Regions from separate parts of the Homo sapiens genome. Here all the other regions are reported to be linked to region 4. Evidence: microRNA targets listed by miRTarBase, many of them from high-throughput screens and not tested one by one. Region 4 holds a microRNA gene; each other region holds the end of a gene's coding sequence.
The links. The annotated mature microRNA hsa-miR-3714 reads GAAGGCAGCAGUGCUCCCCUGU and lies in region 4 at 1,770-1,791, shown strand. An mRNA with a match to its seed (bases 2 to 7 or 8) in the 3' UTR can be bound and repressed. Matches are read on the target gene's strand: a 7mer-m8 pairs with bases 2 to 8, a 7mer-A1 pairs with bases 2 to 7 and ends in A, and an 8mer does both.

Region 1 (5,152 bases), not on the chromosome of region 4:
TCTCTAGGACCTGTGAGTAGAATAAACTTCGTCTTTTCCTGAGACTCTCCTCTGTCTTCTCTTGTGGCTATGCCTGACTGATCATCACGTAAAAAGGTAGAAAATAGCAAGTATCCAACCTCTTCGTATTTTGACAAGGTGTAGCAAGACTAATATAATGGGGCAGGACAGACACAACCATAGTATTTTTTTTTTTAAAGCAGGTGATGGAGAAAGGGTGGTTCTCCTGCCATTTGGTTGTGTGATTAGAAGACAGCCCTTTGTCACACAGTTGTCGGCCTGCCTGTGATATTCCCGGCTATGGCCAAGATGTGTGAGGTAAGCCCCGGGTTCCTCCCACTTCCGTGTATTCCTGAGGACTCTGCTTTCCCACACTGAGTTTTGCATCTTCTCACAGGGAATTTCTATGGCTTCTCTGTACTTTGCTAATTATATGCACATTAATCATGGTGACCTGGTTACAGGCTATGGTTTCAAGAGAAGATAAAGTTCCCAATTGGTATCTGATGGGCAAAACAGGTACAGATGGACCCCCTGGGCTTTGCCCCTGTTGAGCTCATGATCACTACTAACCACCCCCCAGATGCTGGGCCACTGGCACTCTATCAGCTGCCCTATACATGGGTCTGGGCTGCTAGAGGTACCTGGTCTTCCAGTGGTCCCTTCAACAGTCCCTTTCCTGTGGCCAGTCTGCCCTAAGCAAGTTTTCTAACCTCTAGCCTTGTTGCATGGACTAGTAGTGGGCACTGACCGTCACTTTCAAGACCAAACAGTATCAGTGTTTGTTGCTAATACTAAGTGTGTCTGGAGGCTGGGTGTGGTGGCTCAGACTTATAATCCCAGCACTTTGGGAGGCCATGGTGGGAGAAGCTCAGGAGTCTGAGACCAGCATGGGCAAAATAGTGAGAGCCCGTCTTTAGGGGGGTGAAAAAAAAGTGGGCTTATTTGATGGAATTGCTGAAGTGCTATAATCATCGCTGAATCGTCTACGTAACTCTGCAAGCAGAATTACTTCTATCTGATCCAAACTCTGCTTTTGGCAGAGGAAGGGAAACCATCTCACAGGAGAAGAGTGACTTGGACAAGATCTCCACAGGCTTCAAAGCTGGCCTTCTCTTTCCTTTGTGCCACAGTATGATTTAGGACTGATAGGGACCCTCCCACCAATGGCCTCATCTTTTTTTATTTGTTTCTTCTTCTAGCTGAGGCAAGAGTTGGGGAGATAGAGAAAAGAGAAAAACGACTAAGGTTGGCTTAAAGCTGTGGTGTGACCAGGAGTACAATCTACTCCCAGCGTATGAAACAGTTATTTCTTCTTCTTTCTTTTGGGGAGGGGCCAGATCAGGTGACCAGAACTATCTAAAGCCTGCAGGTCTTAGAAAACATGTTTTGGCTGTGCTTCACATTTTACTTTTTGTTTTTTGAGATGAAGTCTTGCTCTGTCACCCAGGCTGGAGTGCAGTGGCGCTCCACCGTTCATAGCAACCTCCACCGTTCACAGCAACCTCTGTCTCCTGGGTTCAAGGGATCTTCCCCCACCTCAGCCCCCAAAATAGCTACAGGCATGTGCCACCATGGCAGGCTAATTGTTCTATTTTTTTCTTAGAGATGGGGTCTCACTATATTGCTCAGGCTGGTCTCAAACTCCTGACCTCAAGCAATCCTTCTGCCTCGGCCTCCCAAAGTGCTGGGATTACAGGAATGAGCTGCCACGCCCAGCCACATTTTACTTTTTAAATGAAAATGAAAAGCCTAACAGGAATATTGACTCAGCAAGTTTTTATTATGCACCTGTGGGTTTGTGACGATGCCAAGGGATCAGAGGAACAAAGAGAGAGGATGTTGCTCAGATGGGGGTCTCAACCTCCAGAGCAAGGTGGACACAAAGCTCCAGCCAGCTGCCCAGCCCCTGGGGTGGGAGGGAAGGATCGAGGGGTAGCTGTTGTCAGATAAGGCCAAAGGTATCAGTGGCCAAAAGGGAGACAAAGATCTCCTGGGTGCAGCCTCCTCCACCACTGTGGTGAAGGGTGTTGGGCTGGAGGGTTGGCCGACCTCTCCTGAGAGCACGTTCCCCCTGCTGCTCCTGCTGCATGGCATCAACCTGGGTTTCAGTTACATTACCCAGGAGGATTTCCAAATCCAGAGGCAATGTGGCCTTCCATTTCCTGAGGTGCCTTGGTTGGCTCTGGATCAGTGGTGGGGACTCAAGAGACAGCCTCCCTGTGGCTTCCAGCCCCTCACATTCCCTTTGTCGCTTTCTCCTTCATGATGTGGTTTTACACAGAAAAACACTCTGGTAAGTAGAACAGTGTTCTTCTCTTGAGTCAGACGTCTGAAGCAGGAAGGTGAATAACCTTCCCAAGACCTTAGAGCTACAGAGAGAATCCTCAGCACAGGTAGGAGCACACAGGTAGGTGGGGTAAACGTGTACAGAGAGCCTGGCTTCTACTTGGAATTTTCCCCTCCCTTGGCCTTAAAAATCGGATTTCTCCCTTTTCCAGCTATGTTGATACAAGAGACAAACTATTTAGAAAGTAAAAGCCTCAACCGTTTATTTTGTGTTCAAAGTATAACCAAATGATTTTATTGCATTTACTGCTCCTGGGCATGCAGATGCATCTACACAGAAACAGCAGTTGTGGTTATAAAATCTTTTAACGAGTTTGGGGCAGAGGCTTTTTAATTATTTTTGAGACAGAGTCTCATTCTGTCACCTAGCTTGTGCAGTGGCATGATCTCGGCTTACTGCAACTTCTGCCTCCCAGACTCAAGCAATCCTCCCACCTCAGCCTCCAGAGTAGCTGGGACCGCAAACGTCAACACCACACCCAGCTAATTTTTTGCATTTTTGGTACAGACGGGGTTTTGCCATGTGGCCCAGGCTGGTGTCACTGAGCTAGGCAATCCACCCACCTTGGTTTCCCAAAGTGCTAGGATTACAGGTGTGAGCCACTGCACCCAGCCCAGAGTTTTCCTGATGTGAAAATTACGTGAGTGACAAGGAGCACCAGGAGCCTTGCCTGACTTACTGTCTGTTGGTAGGATGTGACATATGAATAATACAAAATACCCGTCTGGTTTGACTTGCAGATTAAATCACTGCTAGACTACAGCCTTGATGCCCTCTCTTGCTGACCCTAGCCAACATAACCAGTCTTCCAGGAACAATACCATGTTTTAAATTGCTTGAGGTTTCACTACCTGCTGTCACTCTCAGTCCGGAATCCCAGCAGGAGACACAGCTCCAGCTGGCCTGCCCAGCCCCCATCAGAAGGCAGGGAGGAAGGGGAATTTGTCAGCGTTTACGGCTATTGAGTATGATTCTTCCATGCAGAGGACACCTGCCCTAAATGCTGAAACTTGGGTCTGAACCCTGCCTTTGATGGAATTGTGAGCAAGCTCACTCAAGTTTGTATTGACTCATCTGTAAATTAGGAATGATATAGCATACCTCACGTTTATCTGGAGTCATGGGCTGAATGCTGTCCCTTTCAAATTCCGATGTTGAAGTCCCAACCTCTAGTACCTCAGAATGTGACCTTATTGGTAAACGGTTGCTGCGGATACAGATGAGGTTATACTGGAGTCGGTGGGATGGGCTCTAATCCGATATGACTGGTGTCCTTAAACAAAGGGAGGTTTGGAGACAGACACGCACACAGCAAGAGTGCCATGTGGAGATGAAGGCAGAGACTGGGTGACGCTTCCACACACCAAGGAATGGCAACTGCCAGCAAAGGCATGAAGCCGCTTCTCCCTCACAGCTCTCGGAAGGCACCAACTCTGAGGACACCCTGATCTTGGACGTGCACCTCCCAGAACTGTCAGGGAATACACTCCTGTTGTTCTAAGCCAGCCAGTGTTTGGACACACCAGCACTCCAAGCTAATGTATCTATCAAGTGTGTTGTCAGGCAAGGTTCTGTTCTGGAGCTTGGCTCACCCAGACAGGAGAACCCCTCACTGGGGGCAGAGCTCCACATTCCTAGACAGGACAGATTGGAAGAAGGGACTTAAGTGCCTTTTAAACGATGACAACTCCGCTTCCAACCCACAAGCATTTACCAAGGATCTTTGGGGTATAAAGACATTATGGGGTAGGTGTGCAACACAAATTAAAATGTAAGCTTTGTTTTTGGTGAGCTCCAGATCCCTAGTGATTGGCCCCCAGGAAAATCAACAGGTATGACGACTGTTTCCAAACCTCAAGAAGGAGCTCTGCAGACCCCTGCCACAGAGGCCAGCCCAAAAGGGCTGCCTGATCATCTTGGATCTGCGGGGTGCTCCTGCCTACCTGATGGCCACGAATCTGGGGCTCAGACATGACATGTCTGGCTCAGTGTGCCTGGCCCTGCTCCCCACTGAGCCCATCAGTCCCACCCTGCCTTCTTCTTTCCTCTAGTCCAACATCCGCCAGCAGCTTCTCAGTGGAAGTGCAGGCATCCTGGAGCTTCAGGAGCAGATCCTAGCGTTCAGACAGGGAAGGAGGGGAGGGAGTATACTGAGGTTTGGCTGGTGACCAGGGTGCCGCCCTGACGGGGGATAGCCCAGTTTTACTCCCCGAGCTTGGGGAGCATGGGCCAAGGGTCTCTAAGACGCAGAACACCTGGCATGTCCAACCTGGTGATGGCACATCCCCCCCGTTTTTTGGCACAGCAGAAACAGAACACTCACTTGGCCACTCTTTCATTACCTGGGGGAGGGAGAGTGCTCCCATGGCACCACCCGAACGCTCACTACCTGAGAGCAAGGACAGGAGGGAGGTGTGCTCTCTATCCTGGGGAAGGTATGTCCTGGGTGGGGGCGCTGATCAGTACCAAGGTGAGGGGGCAGCACCAGCCAGGGTGAGGCCGCCCCAGGCGGAGAGGCTCAGTAGGAGTTCAGAGCCTGCTTGGAACGGCGCTTCATGTGCAGGCGCTCGTGGCGGAGGAGGTCATAGTTCTGCGTGAAGCTCTTGACGCAGTACCGGCACTGGAAGGGCCGGGCTTTGTCCTTCAGGTGAAAGTGGCTGCGGTGCCGAGCCAGGTGGTCGTGCCGCTGGAAGGCCTTCCCACACTCACAGCACTGGAAGCTCAGTTTGGCCTTGCCGTTTTCCAGCGGCTCTTTGGGACCCTTGTCCGCGTCCTCGGATGCCGCCTGCTCTCTCTTCTCCA
Region 2 (5,152 bases), not on the chromosome of region 4:
TTATGTCCTGTAATAAGTGCTGCAAAGGAAAACAGTGAAGATAGTAAATAACAGAGGGAAGGACCCACTTTAGAGAGGGAAGTCAGGGGAACCCACATGTGAACTAGAAAAGCTAGGAGAATATGATATTGAATACTGAGTGTCAACTTGATTGGATTGAGGGCTACAAAGTATTAATCCTGGGTGTGTCTGTGTGGGTGTTGCCAAAAGAGATTAACATTTGAGTCAGTGGGCTGGGGAAGGCAGATCCACCCGTAATCCATTGGTCACAATTTAATCAGCTGCCAGTGAATATAAAGCAGGCAGAAAAATGTGAGAGGGAGAGATGGGCTTAGCCTCTCAGCGTACATCTTTCTCCCATGCTGGATGCTCCCTGCCCTCGAACATCAGATTCCAAGTTCTCCAGATTTGGGACTTGGACTGGCTCTCCTTTCTCCTCAGCTTGCAGATAGCCTATTGTGGGACCCTGTGATCATGTAAGTTAATACTTAATGAACTTATATATATATATAAAATGAGTTTTTATATCATTATATACATATAAAATGAGTTTATATATCATTATATATTATATATATATATATAAAATGATCTATTCTACACATGACTGGCAGATTAATCATCTTAAAGCACAAGACCGGTATTATTATCCTCTTACATATATATATATATATATATATATATATATATATATATATATATATATATATGTTCTGTCCCTCTAAGAGAACCCCGACTAATACAGAGAGGGAATGAGGAAGCTAGGGAGGGAGAGCATTCCAGGCATAGAAAGCAGCATGTGCAAAGGCCCTGAGGCAAGAAAGAACTAGCAGAGTATAGGAGCGGATGAAAGCTGGAGCAGAGTTCAAGAAGTTGGAGGAGTGGGCATGGGCCAAGTCAAGCTGGGTCTTAAAGACCAAGGTAAAGAGTTTGGATGTTATTAAAAGTGAAATGGGAAGACAGTAAAGGGTAGTAACCAGGAAAGTGATGAAATTTGGAAAAACGTGAGGCAATGTGTGGACAGTGGTGGAAAGGAGCAGTAGTGATGATGGAGAGGCTGGTTTGGGGACTGCTGCAGTGGCCCTACTCAAGCAGGATTTGTGTGAATCTGCAGCCCAAGGTCAGGGTTAGAGAAATACATTTTGAATTTGTTTGCATAAAAATGGTTTTCCGATCATAAGGATGGATAAAATAAACTATGGAGTGGCTGGTAACACATTACCACAAACTTGTTGGCACACATTTCTTCTCTTACAGTTCTGGACCTCTGAAGTCCAAAATCAGTTTCAAGATATCTGCAAGGCCAACCTCTCTCTGGAGGCTCTAGAGGAAAATCCTTTCCCTTACCTTTCCCAGCTTCTGGAGATGCATTCCTTGCATTCCCTGGCCCATGGCCCTTTCCTCCATCTCCAAAGCCAGCAGCATGGCATCTTGTCTTGGTTGTCATATTGCCTTCTTCTGTAGCCAAATCTCCCACTGCCTCTCTTTCATAAGGACACTCATGATTACATATAGGGCCATTATGGATAATCCAGTATAAATTTCCTATCTTCAAGATCCTTAATCATACCTGCAAAGTCCCTTTTGCCACATAGGGTGACATTCACAGGTTCAGGGATTAGGACATGACATCTTTGGGGCAATATTCAGCCTACCACAGAGGGTAAAAAGCGAAAAAGGACCCAGTGTCAAGTTCTGAGGCATGCTAACATTTAGGTCAGACAGAAGAGAAGGAACTAGAAAAAGAGATTGAGAAGGAATAGTCATTGAGGAAGAAGGAAGGCTGGCAGAGAGTCATGTTGCAGAGCCAAGGGACTAGAGACTCCGAGTGTTCAGAAGGAAGGAGCTGTTTCTTGTTGCTGAGAGGTTGAGTAAGATAAAGATGGAGAAGAAGCCACTGGAAATGGCATCATGATTGGTGATCTCTACCACAGCAGATTGGGGTGTGGGGGCTGGGCACGCTGGATTGAAAGCCATCAGAATGGGCTGAGGAATGCATGGGGTGAGGTAGTACAGGCACCAAGTGTGAATACCTCTATGTTCTGCTATCAAAGGAAGAGAGAAACTGTGTCGGAGGGGGTTATAGAGTTAAATAAGACAGCACATTGCTTTCTGTTTTTAATGGCGGACATTGCTGATGGTTTCATAGAAAGATGCAGGAGGAAAAATGGATACCCAAGGGAATGAAGTCTTGAGAAAGCAAGAAGCAATGAGACCCAAAGTCAAATGAAGAGACTGTCCTGCTAGGAGCAGGGACACGTGTATTGTAATAGGAAGAAATATGTGTGTAAGTGAAGGCAGAGTTGATTTTCTCAAGAGTGAGGCTGAGAACAAGGAGTGTAGTTATGTTTGAGGAAACAATGTTTGAGAAGTCATATTATTTGTGGAGATACACTATTTTGTTTCATTTCCTCTAACAAGTGTCATTGGCATAGTCATAGCCCCTAAATATCTAAAAATTAATTCCACTTTAACCACCTCCCCTAGTTCAGTGATAGATAATTTTAAGTGAAAATAACCATGCAAATAGCCACCTTATGTGACACTTTATTAAAATGATAAATGATGCAATCAAACTACTTTGTGGTTTTGTTTTCATTAAAAAAATAAACTGAAAAGAAAAAAAAACAACTGAACAACTTGTCTTACTAAGGTGGGTAATAAATAAGGCATTTACCATAATTATGAAATTATGCAGCCTACACATGTATGAAAACTGTAGAACATGTACTATGAAATCACATTGTCAATGGTTAGCAGATTGAAATTCAAAATCTTTTGTGTATGCTGTTTGATATGACATTCAAGCAAACTATGAACAGAACTATTAGCATTTGCATCCCCTTTTATGTTAAGACTATAGCTTCTATCCAATTACCCATTTCCCCTCATGAAGATGAAGATGAGACAGTGTGAAAGGTCCCTCCACCAGAATATTTCTTAGGTCCTTGTCACTCACTTTGACATTCAAATTACCCACTGCTAAGGCAGGCATACCAGTATCACTCATCTAGCATTGGCATTGGAATCTCAGGGCATCTCGCCCAGAGCTAAAAGCAATTTCTCAGTCTTGTAATAAACAATGTTACTTTTATCAATCTTACACCTACTGTCTAAGCATAGGTATGGACAGTGTAGATTGCCTCATAATGGGTTGAGTTTAGTTGTTCAATAATTTTTTTGCATTTGAACCTTGGAAATTATTTATTAATTTTCAAAGCTGGTTTAATGGTTTAAGAGAATCTGCCACCAAGATTATCTTTTTCTCACCTTTCCTTTTCCTTTTTTCTCCTTCCATGAAGAGGTATGTCTTTAAAAGCCATAGAATCTAGGATATTTAGAGGTCCCTTCTCCTATCTAGTCACCTACATTGATAAATTCCTCCTGATGTTTCTCATACAATGAGAATGTTATAATTTCATAGAAGATGAGGACTTGTAAAGATTCCCTCTAACTGAATGAAAAATCAGACTCCAAATTCAAGCCCAGACTTGCCTCCTGCAAAGCTTCCCTCCCTGATAGAAAGCTTGCTCTAAACTCTCAGGGAGTCCCTGATTCATAAAGGGAGAGCCTAACATGTTCTTTTACAGATTTCAGCCCTCCCACAGTCTGCAGTAGAAATACAATTTCTCTACTTGATTTTTGAAAGTACAAACATTGCCACAGAAACATATTGTAAAAACATGTAACATGAAGTGAGTTGTAAACATTCAAGTATTTCTACAGGTTTGAATAAAAACAGCAGCAATTTTTTAAAAAACGTATAACTTTGCTTTTTAAAACAAGCACTGCACAGGCTATTTATATCAAAGAGGAAAAGGCCAGGAGAGCTGGTTAAAGCCTCCAAAAAATTTATTTGGTCTAATTCTATCAGCAGACACTGACTTAGACATTGCCAAGAACTCCTAAGAAAGATATTTTCCACAGAACCAAGGGATGCATGTTATGCAACAATGTTGAAAAAGTAGTGCCCTTCCAGTTAAATGTCTGAGGCACTCTAACTTTTTCTAGAAGCTGTTCACCTAGAAACTTTGGTGGTTAGCTAAGAAAGCACTGTTCAAGAATTATAAAAGATGGAATATAAAGATATCTTTCAGAGTGTCTCCTATTCAGTGAATCCAACCAAAGAATAGACTAAGAGTTGACATTCTCAGCCATGCCCATTCTCCTTTTTCTGTGTTTTATACCTGAGGATTATTCGCAGCCCATTTAAAAATAAATAAATAAAAGCAAATTGCTTTGGATGATGTTTGAGAGGATCAGAAGGCTGATCCAGGATACAGTGTCAACCTTCCTTGGTGAGTGATGCCTTGGTCCAGTTTCCCTGTTGGCTGCCATCTGGCCAGCTGTGGGACATCACCCTTTCCTGTTGAGGGAGACCAGATGGTTCACAGAGCATCCGTGGGGAGAGCACAGGACTGGACTTGCTGGTAATCTGTCTGCTTCATTGCAGAGCAGAGTCTGAGGGAGAGAATCACCGTGGTGATTAGAAGGAGGAGTCCAATGATGAAAAGGATGACCAAGGCTGCCTTGGCTCCTGTTGGACCCAGATTCTTGCCAAAGAAATAGAGCTGCTCTTTGCCAGGTCGTTCTGTGAAAAAGATAAACTTGTCAGGCCCCTGACATTTTTGAGGGGTGAAATGTTGACTCATTTACATGGGGAGAGGGTATCATTACCGTTAGATGGCACCGTGGCTGGGTGAGATGCCACTCCAGGAGATGTGGTGGAGTAAGGAATCCTGTTGTCTGCACAAAGAAAACAAGTTCATTGTTTTATTAACAACAGAAGGGGATTCTTTTCATGACACTAGTCATTTCATTTCACCAGCGAGGACTTATCCCATCAGTATCTGCCAATCATTTCTGGATTCTTACTGTGCTACTTCATTCCCATGTACATGCTTTCCTGCCCCAGCTGTCTTTCCCACTTCTGCTCACCCACTGAGTCTATCTGGAGCATCATGGCCTCTGTGAAACTTTGGCTCATATCCTCCAACTGTTACCCATTCACTCCTACTGCTGCTATTAAGCCCTGTACTCTGCATTCTGCTACGGCACATAGCATACTTGATTATAGTTACATATTTACATATATGTCTCTCTTACTTGACTCTGAGCTTGTTGAGGGCTATATCTGGGTTTTTGTCATGCC
Region 3 (5,152 bases), not on the chromosome of region 4:
GAAAATATAAGGAGGTAGGAGCCTGAGGTGCCTGTGGCCACCCGGCTGGAGGTGGGTGGGCCGCGCTTGTCAGCTTGCTTGGCGGAACGTTCCTTTAGTTGGGAGGGAGTGCCTTTCCTGAAGCAATCCTTGGGCTGGACATGCTGATCCTGAATGAGTCCTAAGAGTACGCGTTTCCCAATACCCGGAGAAAACAGCAAGCCTGTGTTCCCAGCCAGCGCTGGTGGCAGCTGGGTTCCAGGCAGGTGGAGCCGACGTGGTCTGGAGCTGGCAGCCACACTCTGGCACCTCCTCAGGCGGTTTTCAAGGGTGGGTTCCAGCCAGGGAGCCCTATGCAGGCGTGGCATGGTGCCACGGGAGGACGGTCTCGGGGTGGGTGGATAAGGACCCTCCTTGCCTGCTCCTGACAGGCCGTGTGCTGCAGGCCACTTTCAATAACCCACGTTCTCAAAACCATCAGGTCCCCACTTCGCTGGCACACAGTGTCAATTGGGGTGTCCTGCAGGGTGGGTGAGGGGTGCTGGGGACTCCCCTGGCCTTGTCACCCAGACCCCCACCCAACCTTAGGGTCCCTGCACTCAGCGGCTGTTCTGGGGTGTAGGGACCAGCCCCACAGGGTCGGTGGGTCTCTCCCCATGTGCAGAGATGAGAGAGTGTAGAAATAGAGACACAAGACAGAGATGAAAGACAGCTGGGCCTGGGGGACCACTACCACCAAGTTGTGGAGACCGGTAGCGGCCCCGAATGCCAGGCTGCACTGATATTATTGGATACAAGACAAAGGGGCAGTGTAAGGAATGTGAGCCGTCTCCAATGATAGGTAAGGTCACGTGGGTCACGTGTCCACTGGACAGGGGGCCCTTCCCTGCCTGGCAGCCAAGGCAGAGAGAGAGAGAGGAGAAGGAGAGAAACAGCTTACATTATTATTTCTGCTTATCAGAGACTTTTAGTACTTTCACTAATTTGCTACTGCTAACTAAACGGCAGAGCCAGGTGTACAGGATGGAACGTGAAGGCGGACTAGGAGCGTGACCACTGAAGCACAGCATCACAGGGAGACGGTTAGGCCTCCGGATAACTGCGGGCGAGCCTGACTGATGTCAGGCCCTCCACAGGAGGTGGAGGAGTAGAGTCTTCTCTAAACTCCCCTGGGGAAAGGGAGACTCTTTCCCGGTCCGCTAAGTAGCGGGTGTTTTTCCTTGACACTAACGCTACCGCTAGACCACGGTCCGCTTGTCAACAGGCGTCTTCCCAGATGCTGGCGTTACCGCTAGACCAAGGAGCCCTCTGGTGGCCCTGTCTGGGCATAACAGAAGGCTCGCACTCTTGTCTTCTGGTCACACCTCACTCACTATGTCCCCTCAGCTCCTATCTCTGTATGGCCTAGCTTTTCCTAGGTTATGATTATAGAGCGAGGATTATTATAATATTGGAATAAAGAGTAATTGCTATAAACTAATGATTCATGATTCATATATAATCATATCTAAGATCTATGTCTGGTATAACTATTCTTATATTTTATTATACTGGAACAGCTCGTGTCCTCAGTCTCTTGCCTTGGCACCCGGGTGGCTTGCCGCCCACATGGGGCCAGGCATGCTGGACCCCCCTCAGTGCACATGCCAGAGCCCAATTCTCTCCTGAGTCTGGGGAAATTGATGCTGCTGAGGACACCACTGTTCTCAGAGTCGTCTCTGCTCGTGGACTCTTCTCAGCGCAGATGTAGCACCTGGATAGGAATTTTTTTTCTTTTCTGTTTTAGAGATGGGGGTCTTGCTCTGTTACAGCCCAGGCTGGAGTGCAGAGGCACAATCACAGCTCACAGGCCCAGACGGTGCAGCGGCCAGGCAGAGGTACTCCTCACTTCCCAGACGGTGGGGCGGCCTTGACCTCTCAGGTTTGAGTGAACCTCCCATTTCAGCGTCCCGAGTAGCTGGGACCACAGGCATGGTGCCACCACAGCTGGCCTGAATTTTCTTTAACAGTTTGGAGTTCCCATCAAACTAAACGCTAATCAAAGGATAGCATTATACGGTATGTGAAATTATAACATTAATTTTTTTCTTCAAAAAAAATCACATCAATAAATGTGTGATAGGTTGGCTGGGAGAAAATCTGGCTAGTCTGGGAAAATTCTTTGTAGGAAAGTTGACAACTAGGGTGCTGCGAGACCTGTGTGTACAAGTAGGTGACCCATCTGGGATCACTGGTTTTGTCAGCACCCCGATTTTGTGCAAATTCAGTTTTCCCTTTATATGGAGAGAACAGCACTGCCCCATGGAGAGCGGAAGGCCCAGGGAGGTCCATCCATGGCCTTCGCCTCTTAAACATTGACCCTGACATGCCCACATCACCTCCTCCTGAAGATTCCAGAAGTAAAGGATAAGTAAGAAAAGCAGGACGGCACTTTGGGAGGCAGAGGCGGGCGGCTCACCTGAGGTCAAGAGTTTGAGACCAGCCTGACCAACATGGAGAAACCCCGTGTCTACTAAAAAATACCAAATTAGCCAGGCATGGTAGTGCATGCCTGTAATCCCAGCTACTTGGGAGGCTGAGACAGGAGAATCGCTTGAACCTGGGAGGCAGAGGTTGTGGTGAGCCAAGATTGTGCCATTGCACTCCAGCCTGGGCAACGAAAGCAAAACTCCATCTCAAAAAAAAAAAAAGTAGGAGGGGTGAGCTGGTCTCTCCTGGAACCCCAGCACTGAGGGAAGCCAAGGCAGGCTAATCTTGAGCCCAAGACTTGGAGACCAGCGTGCCACTGCACTCCTGCCAAGGTGACAGCAAGACCCTGCCTCAGAAAAAAAAAAAAAATGCCAAGTACAGTGGCTCACGCCTGTAACCCCAGCACTTTGGGAGGCCAAAGCAGGCGGATCCCTTGAGTCCATAAGTTCGACACCAGCCTGCGCAACGTGGCGAAACCCCATCTATACAAAAAGCACAAAAAATTATTTGGGTGTGTTGGTGAGCACCTGTTGTCCCAAGTACTTGGGAGGCTGAGGTGGGAGGATTGCCTGAGCCCAACAACTTGCTGCAGTGTGCTTATGCCACTGCACCCCAGCCTGGGCAACAAAGAGGCCCTAAAAACCACCAGGGGTTTCCCTTCCAGCAGCTAAAACCTGAGAATCATGGATGCAGTGGAGAGCATGAGCGCTTTCCCAGCCCTGTGGGATCCCTTTGCTTAGCCATACACGGGCCGATCTGACACCCAAAACCAAAGGCATTGAGCGAGTGGGAGTGCCACCCGCTGCCGTCCCAGCCCTTTCCCAGGGAAAGGCCACCCCCTTCCAGCTGCTGCTTGTGATCTGGGGCTGAGTTCTGGCTGCTGCAAAAACAACATCCCAACGCGAGGGCTGGGGCCGCCAGGTCCATCACAAGGTGGGAAACATGCCCATAAGAGGAAAACAGCCCTGACTTTAAATATATATTCTCCAATTTAAAACTTTTAACTAAAAAGTAAACTTTAATGTCGAAAGTGCAAACTTGGGGAAGGCAGAAAACATCACACACAAGGCTGTCACTTCACACTTGGAAGGTTGCACAGCGGCCGGGCAGAGGCGCTCCTCACTTGCCAGACGGGGTGGCGGCCAGGCAGAGGTGCTCCTCACTTTCCACACGGTGTGGGGGCCGGGCAGAGGTGCTTCTCAGTTCCCAGATGGTGCTGGGCTGTCGGACTCCATTGCTGGATGTGTGACTTGGGTTTAAGCTTCTCCCTTCTGCTCTCATCTGGAAATGCTGACAGCCTGGGCATTTCCTCCTTTGGCACTGGAGACTGAAGCCTGGCAAGGCCCTGCCCTCAGCAGGAACTCCCCCTGGGCCCCACTCTGTGACCTTGAGCCCAAGACAGGATTTTTCCTTTACCTTCTTCCAGCCACTTTGGGCCTCCCGGCTCTCTCAGAGCCCTGTTAGGTAGGTGACAACTCTGTTCCCACTGTTTTTTTTTTCTTCGTGTATTTTTAGTAGAGATGCAGTTTCACCATGTTGGCCAGGCTGGTTCGAACTCCTGACCTCAGGTGATCCACTCGCCTCAGCTGCCCAAAGTGCTGGCATTACAGGTGTGAGCCACCGCGCCCGGCCCCCGGTTCCCACCTTCTTAAGTGTATGTGTTGTCATCATGTTTCACCCCAACCAAACCTTGGGTGGGCAGCCTCTGTAGGGGACCACTCACAGCTGGCCTGTAGTCACGGTCCCCTGCAGAGCCCTGTCCCGATGCGTCGTCCCTGCCCGTGGCCTGCTCTGCCTGATGTGCACTGTACGCTCGGCTCTGCTGACTCCCGGGGGCCTCCGTCACACACTGAGCCAGCCTCATCAGCTGTCTCGGTATTTGGTGTTCAGGGACAGGGATCCAGCCCTTCCTAAGGTCCACCTGGGCTGAGACTCAGAATGGACGTTCAAAACAAAGAGATGGAGCTGTGAGTGACACCGGGCCCCACGGGCCGTCTGTCAACCAGGCCTTGGCCCTAGTCCATCGGGCACTCACCCCCTGCAAGATGTGGACCCACTAGTGCCCAACGTGTGAACAAGTAGCTGGAGGCCTCACCCCACACTGCTGGCATGGCCTGCCTCTCTCCTACCCAGGTGTAGCAGCTCCTGGTGCCAGTTGCCCCAGAGCGTGGCCAGGCCCCGGGTGTCTCTCCATCACAGCTGCGGCTCTGGCTTCTTCCGGGAAGTGAGGTGGGGTCGCTCCCCGTGCAGCTGCTGCTGCCGCTGCTTCAACGCTCTGTAGGCCTGCACGGCCCGCTCTCTCTCCTCCTCCACAATCCGCTGGCGGGCCAGGGAGGCGGTCAGAGGCTGGGACACACCACCGGGGCTCAGAAGCATCCGCAGCATCTGCGATCTCCTGCCAGGCTGAGGGAGAGAGGGGAGGGTGAGGCACAGGCTGGGAAAGGAGGGGATGCAACAGAAAGCCTCACAGCTTCAACAGCTCTCCCGCCAGCGAGAACACTGCACTCTCAGGCCACACACCAGACAGCGCACACGTTGGCTGAGGGTTTTTTTTTTTCTTGACACAGGATCTCGCTATGTTGTCCAGGCTGGTATCAACTCCTGGGCTCAAGCAATCCGCCTGCCTTGGCCTCCCAATGTGCTGGGATTACAGGTGTGACCCACCGTGTCCAGCCTGTCCAAGGCTTCTGTTCCCTGGCAGCAC
Region 4 (5,324 bases):
TCTCCCTTAGAAAAAAAGCACGTAAATGTTCTGTTCCTATAAAAACAATTTAAATAGAGACTTTCTTTATCAGCAGACAGAATAACCTGGTTGCATTGTCAATGTTCTGTCTAAATGAAGTTTAACTAACAACTGTTGCCTTTAAGGGATAGAAAAGAAAACCTCACAAATATTATTTATAGAGAACATGCATTGGTCTTAGAGTCTGAGGGTCCAGGTTCCAGTTCGGTTGCTGCCATTTATTACGTGAATGACCCCAGGCAAGTCTCTTTTTTTAAGGTTCAGTTTTCTCCCTTGCAATGAGAATAACACCTCCCTGACAAGGTTATTTTAAGAACTTGATGAGATGTTGGATATGAAAGCATCTTGTATAGGTAAGACACTAAGTTCTGACATAGAATAAACTTATGATTGCATGTTTGTATCCCTGCAAAATTCATACATTGAGATACAATCCCCAGTGTGATGATTTGAGATAATTAGGTCATGAAGGAGGAGCCCTCATGAATGGGATTAGTGCCCTTATAAGAAGAGGCCAGAGAGCTAGCTCACTGTCTTTCTGCCATGTGAAGATATAAGGAAAAGGTGGCCATCTGCAGCCTGGAGAGGGCCCTCACCAGAACCCGACCACACTGGCACCCTGATCTCACACTTCCAGCCTTCAGAACTGTGAGAAACAAATTTATGTTGTTTTAAGCTACCAGTCTATGGTAATTCGTTATGGCTGCCAGAATTAGGATAGCTCTTAATTTTTAGTTGAATCTGAATTTATATGTATTTCTTAGGCCTGGATTTGAAAACCATTCTGCTATGTGGTTTAGGTAGTATCAGCTGTTAGCATACGCATTGTCTCAAGGACTAACTTTTCAATATCTATCTTTATTTCAGGTTAGTAACATCCTTTGTTTGGGAATAACATGCATATTATTTCATCTGATGTTTTCCTAAGACAATTAGATTGAATTTTTTTCTTCTCACTTAAGCATTTTGGAGTACCATTAGTCCTCTTCCATGTCTTAGATAATATTGAATTCAGGGTGTACTTTTAAAAATCTTGGTAGTTAAATTTAGCAGTTTTGTTTGGAGGTATTTATTTTCATCTTGGTAATAAGACAAGAAGTAAGATGTTTCATAATTACCATATTTTGTTTGGGATTTCTGCTGAATTTTCTCTCTCTCCATTGCAGTTCTCTTTTTGGAGAGGTCCTTCTCTCTACAGCCATATGCTGGTAGATAATGCACGGTAGCTGATCAGTGCTAGAAAATACAGGAGATCCAGAGCATATTACTCCCTTGAACGTATCTTTTAGCTGCAGGGAAAACAGATCTAAGGCATGAATTACAACTTATTAGTTGTAGATGGACTCTGTAGCCCAGTACTGATTAAGAAGAAACAGCCTCACTCTGTCTTGCCATGATGGCTGTTCCAAGTCAAAGGAAAAGGAGAAGTCTGTTGGAGAAGATTTTCTTTCTTTTTTCCTTCTTCTTCTTTTCTTTAGTTCATCCATTCATTTATTTTCTAATATTATGGGACACAAAAGCAGAATTTGTAGTTAGTACTCTTGGCTGTAGAAATTCGTAGTTTTGCTTTTCCTTTAAGGTTGATTCCAGCACCACTTTGTGAGAAGAAACTGTCATAGTTTCACATTGCCTCTAAGAAAATGAAACGTACCTAAGTATTATTGGACAGCCGGAGTATTTTACAGTGGTTGCTGCTCAGGAAATTTGAGTGAAGGACTGCAAAAGAGGAGCAAAGCAGACCCGAGAGAGAAGGCAGCAGTGCTCCCCTGTGACGTGCTCCATCACCGGGCAGGGAAGACACCGCTGCCACCTCTCCACAGCCTTGTTCAAGAGCACTGGAAATTGTAAGGTGTTTGTTTTGTTTCATTTTGGGAGTGGTGGAAGATTAGCCTTTGTGTTTCTCCTCTAAAGAGTTTTGTCTAAAACGCTTACGACTACTTAGTTAAACAAAAATCCAAAGTAAGCTATCATTGAAATATGAAATATACTAACAAAGCCAAACAGTAAAAGATTATACAGGGAAAGTCCTTTCTCCCCATTTTGACTTCACCCACTCAGTTTCCCTTCCCAGTGTCCTTCCAGAGAGATATTTGACTCATGAATCAGCACATATATTCATATGCCTGCTTTTTCATACACTGTAGCAGCATACTAGAATATTGTTCAGCATTTTTATTTCTTTTTTTTTTAACCTTACACTATTTCCTGATGTTTTCCAAGTAAATGTTTTATTTTTTTTCTTATGGTTGTGTAGTATACATCCATTGTGTAGATGGATGTGTAAAGTACACATCCATTGTATAGATGTGTAATTTATTTAGCCAGTTTCTTGAGGAATATTTAGGTGTGGTGGCTCATGTCTGTAATCCCAGCTCTCTTGGAGGCTGAGGGGGGCAGATCACCTGAGGTCAGGAGTTCGAGACCAGCTTGGCCAACATGGTGAAACCTGTCTCTACTAAAAATACAGAAATTAGCCGGGCATGATGGTGGGTGCCTGTAATCCCAGCTACTCAGGAGGCGGAGGCAGGAGAATCGCTTGAACCCAGGAGGCGGAGGTTGCAGTGAGCCCAGATTGCACCACTGCACTCCAGCCTGAACGACAGAGTGAGACTGTCTCAAAAACAAACGAACAAAAAAGTCTTGGTGTATGAATAAGGAAAGGAGCCCTAGATATTGGGCATGCAAAGGCTTTTGTGTTCTCTGAAAAGGTCATGCAATGATAGAAGTGACCCGAGACACCTGTAAACTGATGACCCACAGTTAAATCCACATAATGTGGCCAGTGCTGTGGTTTTGGGTAAGTGCAGGATGCTGTGGACAGTGGGTGCCTAAGAGCTACATTTCACTCAAGTGCTGGAGAAGCAGGAGAGATTGACCCTAAGGAAGTTCCTGCTAAGCTGAGCCCTGGAGAATGTGAGGAACATAGGTTAGGAAAGGGTAGAATAGTGTGAGGAACTGTGTTCTAGGAGAGGGAACACCAGCATGCCCAGAGATCATCATGGCCCGTTTGAGCTTCAGAAGTGTATCTGTTGGCAGTCTGGAGAGGAGACTGGCAAGGTAATCAGGCATTGGAATCACCGTAGCTCTCCATAAGTGTCAAGGAGGTTGGACATAAGGCTATGGGAGGCCAGTGAAGACCTTTATCAGGAGTGGGAGGTTATTTGATTTGTGTTTAAAAATCTCATCCTGCCTGCCAGGTGGAGAGTAAACCGGAAAGGGATGGGATGCTATGTAGGAAGCTGTTGCAGTAATCCAAGTGAAAGGTGATGGTGGCCTGAACTAGGAAATGGCAGTGCAACTAGGAAGAAGTAGACACAGAAGAGCTCTTCAGACAGTGGAATCAACAGGAGTTAGCAATTTTGAGACGTGGGCATGGAGGCAGAGACCCTCAGCCCTCTGGTTGTTCACTTTTAACAAAAAGATTATGTGCAATGCATTTAACATATTATTCTTGCATCTTTATGAAACCATCCTCATTATTTCTTTTGGACAAATCCTGGAAGTAGACTTGCTGAGTCAAAGGAAAGATCTTGAAATATTTCAATAATGTAGTCAAATTGCCTCCAGAAAGGCTAATACGCCAATTGTCCATTACCAATTAGGGCACTAGCTTCAGCCTCACTGAGTATTATCGCTTTGAATTGACACCAATCTGATAGGAAGAAAATACATACCTTTTCTTTATTTTAATTTGCATTTCTGTGAGTACTGGCAAAGTTGAAGTTTTTTTCATGCTTATCAACTAATTATATTTCCACAAATTACATATTCATATCTTTGCTTATTTTCCCCCTGAGGTGTTTATCTTTGTCTTTTTTATTTCTAAGAGCTCTATTACTCTTTAGTTGCTTAACCCTTTGTCTTTTCTATTTGTTGCAGGATTTCTCTCATTTATTTATGCTTTTGTTTATATTTTGTTGATCAGAAAGTTTTTTAATGTAATAAAATATTTTGTTCATGCTTTATGCCTGTAGTTCAGTGTGAAGAAAATTCTTCCTCAACCCCAGGTTGAGGTATAAATAGTGGGATTTTTATAAATATTCACATTTATTTTCATTTTTTACCTTCGGGTCTTTAATTCATCCGGAATTTTCGGATATGTGTTGTAGGAATCTATCTCTTTTTGATCGGAATAATAATTTTTTTTTCTGAACCAAAAATCGGGACAACCTAGTCTATGTAACAAATAATTTTTATGCATTTGTGTGGCAGAAGCAGTTTTAGAGAGTAATAATATTGGAATTTCTGGGACATTTGATGTTATATATGTTGATAGATTATAGAGAGATAAGATTTAAGGACTAATACTTATACCTGGGCAACATCAGGGAACCTGTGCCATTGCTAAAAAATAAAAAAAGAAAGAATGGCTCCCAACACCCATTCAGAATAGAATGTTTGAAATCCAGAGTGCATGAGAAAGTTCAGGATCCAGATTGTAAAATATTGCCAATGGTTTATGTAGTGCAACCTGCATTTCACTGATAGCTCATGTTATCCTTCCTATTTGAAACACTAGTTAACATCAAAATGACTTTTCAGGTCCGTGGTGGCTCTAATCTTTGTATGTTGGTAGGTTCCTTTCTAGGCAGAACATCCAAAGACAACCCATTCTCTTGAGGCCATCAGAACAAGATCAAAGGTTGTAGAGCCTTGACCACAGTATTAAAGCAAAGCCTCAAAATGACTTAAGGAATCTTAGGAAATAAAATGCCACAGTCCTGGACATTTATCATTTGGCAGCAAGCTAAACATTTCCTAAAACTTTTACAAGTAATTTAGGTACCTAATGGAAATTTTTTGTTTTTAAATTCTGGAGTTGCCTAAATTGTTTAGGAGAAATTTAGCTGGAATCTGGCGATAGGACTGTTTATATGTGCTTGGCTCAGGGTGGCTGTGTTGTCCACATTAGCATGACCATGGGCTCCTTATCGAAGCCCTGGTTCCCAGTAAGTGCTGTTTGCAAGAGTGAGGTGGAGTTTGGTGGCTTTCAGGCCACCCAGAGTGCCATGTGTATCTGTTTGATAAACTCTGTGGTTTGTCTGTTCTCTGTGTTTTTGCCAGATTGTTTAAAAAAAAAAGAAAGAAAGAAAAAGCAAACAAGCAGGCATCATATGTTAAAAGTTTATCTTTCTACATGAATTTTTGGAAAATCTAAGTGTAATTTTATTCCTGAAAGAACAAAAAGTTGTTTCCCTGGGGAGATAATTTTGGGGTGCATAGATATTTTTAAGGCTGTAGATATTAACTATGAAAATAATATATAACTTTGTCAATACTTTTTTTTCAGCAGGCTAAGCCAT

Region 1: miRTarBase lists ZNF496 as a target of hsa-miR-3714. Seed matches in the 3' UTR shown: 7mer-m8 at 3,684-3,690 and 7mer-m8 at 3,272-3,278.
Region 2: the mRNA of HEPHL1 is a reported target of hsa-miR-3714. Seed matches in the 3' UTR shown: 8mer at 2,984-2,991, 7mer-A1 at 2,666-2,672 and 7mer-m8 at 2,295-2,301.
Region 3: the mRNA of CCDC137 is a reported target of hsa-miR-3714. Seed matches in the 3' UTR shown: 7mer-m8 at 3,493-3,499.

Annotation. Positions count from the first base shown.
Region 1 is chr1:247,295,651-247,300,802 of GRCh38, forward strand. It overlaps ZNF496 (zinc finger protein 496), which reads right to left. Exons shown (of 10, transcript NM_032752.3): 10 at 1,765-5,152. The coding sequence ends at 4,869. Among named protein-coding and RNA genes, the nearest start is that of ZNF496, 34 kb to the right of the region's middle. RefSeq lists enhancers at 3,273-4,172, 4,173-5,071.
Region 2 is chr11:94,111,131-94,116,282 of GRCh38, reverse strand. HEPHL1 (hephaestin like 1) reads right to left here. Exons shown (of 20, transcript NM_001098672.2): 19 at 4,678-4,746; 20 at 2,075-4,591. The coding sequence ends at 4,389. Among named protein-coding and RNA genes, the nearest start is that of PANX1, 15 kb to the left of the region's middle.
Region 3 is chr17:81,672,194-81,677,345 of GRCh38, reverse strand. It overlaps CCDC137 (coiled-coil domain containing 137), which reads right to left. Exons shown (of 6, transcript NM_199287.3): 6 at 3,447-4,851. The coding sequence ends at 4,642. Among named protein-coding and RNA genes, the nearest start is that of CCDC137, 8.0 kb to the right of the region's middle.
Region 4 is chr3:16,931,427-16,936,750 of GRCh38, forward strand. MIR3714 (microRNA 3714) reads left to right here and starts at 1,770; the gene lies at 1,770-1,834. All of the region lies in intron 1 of PLCL2 (phospholipase C like 2), which reads left to right.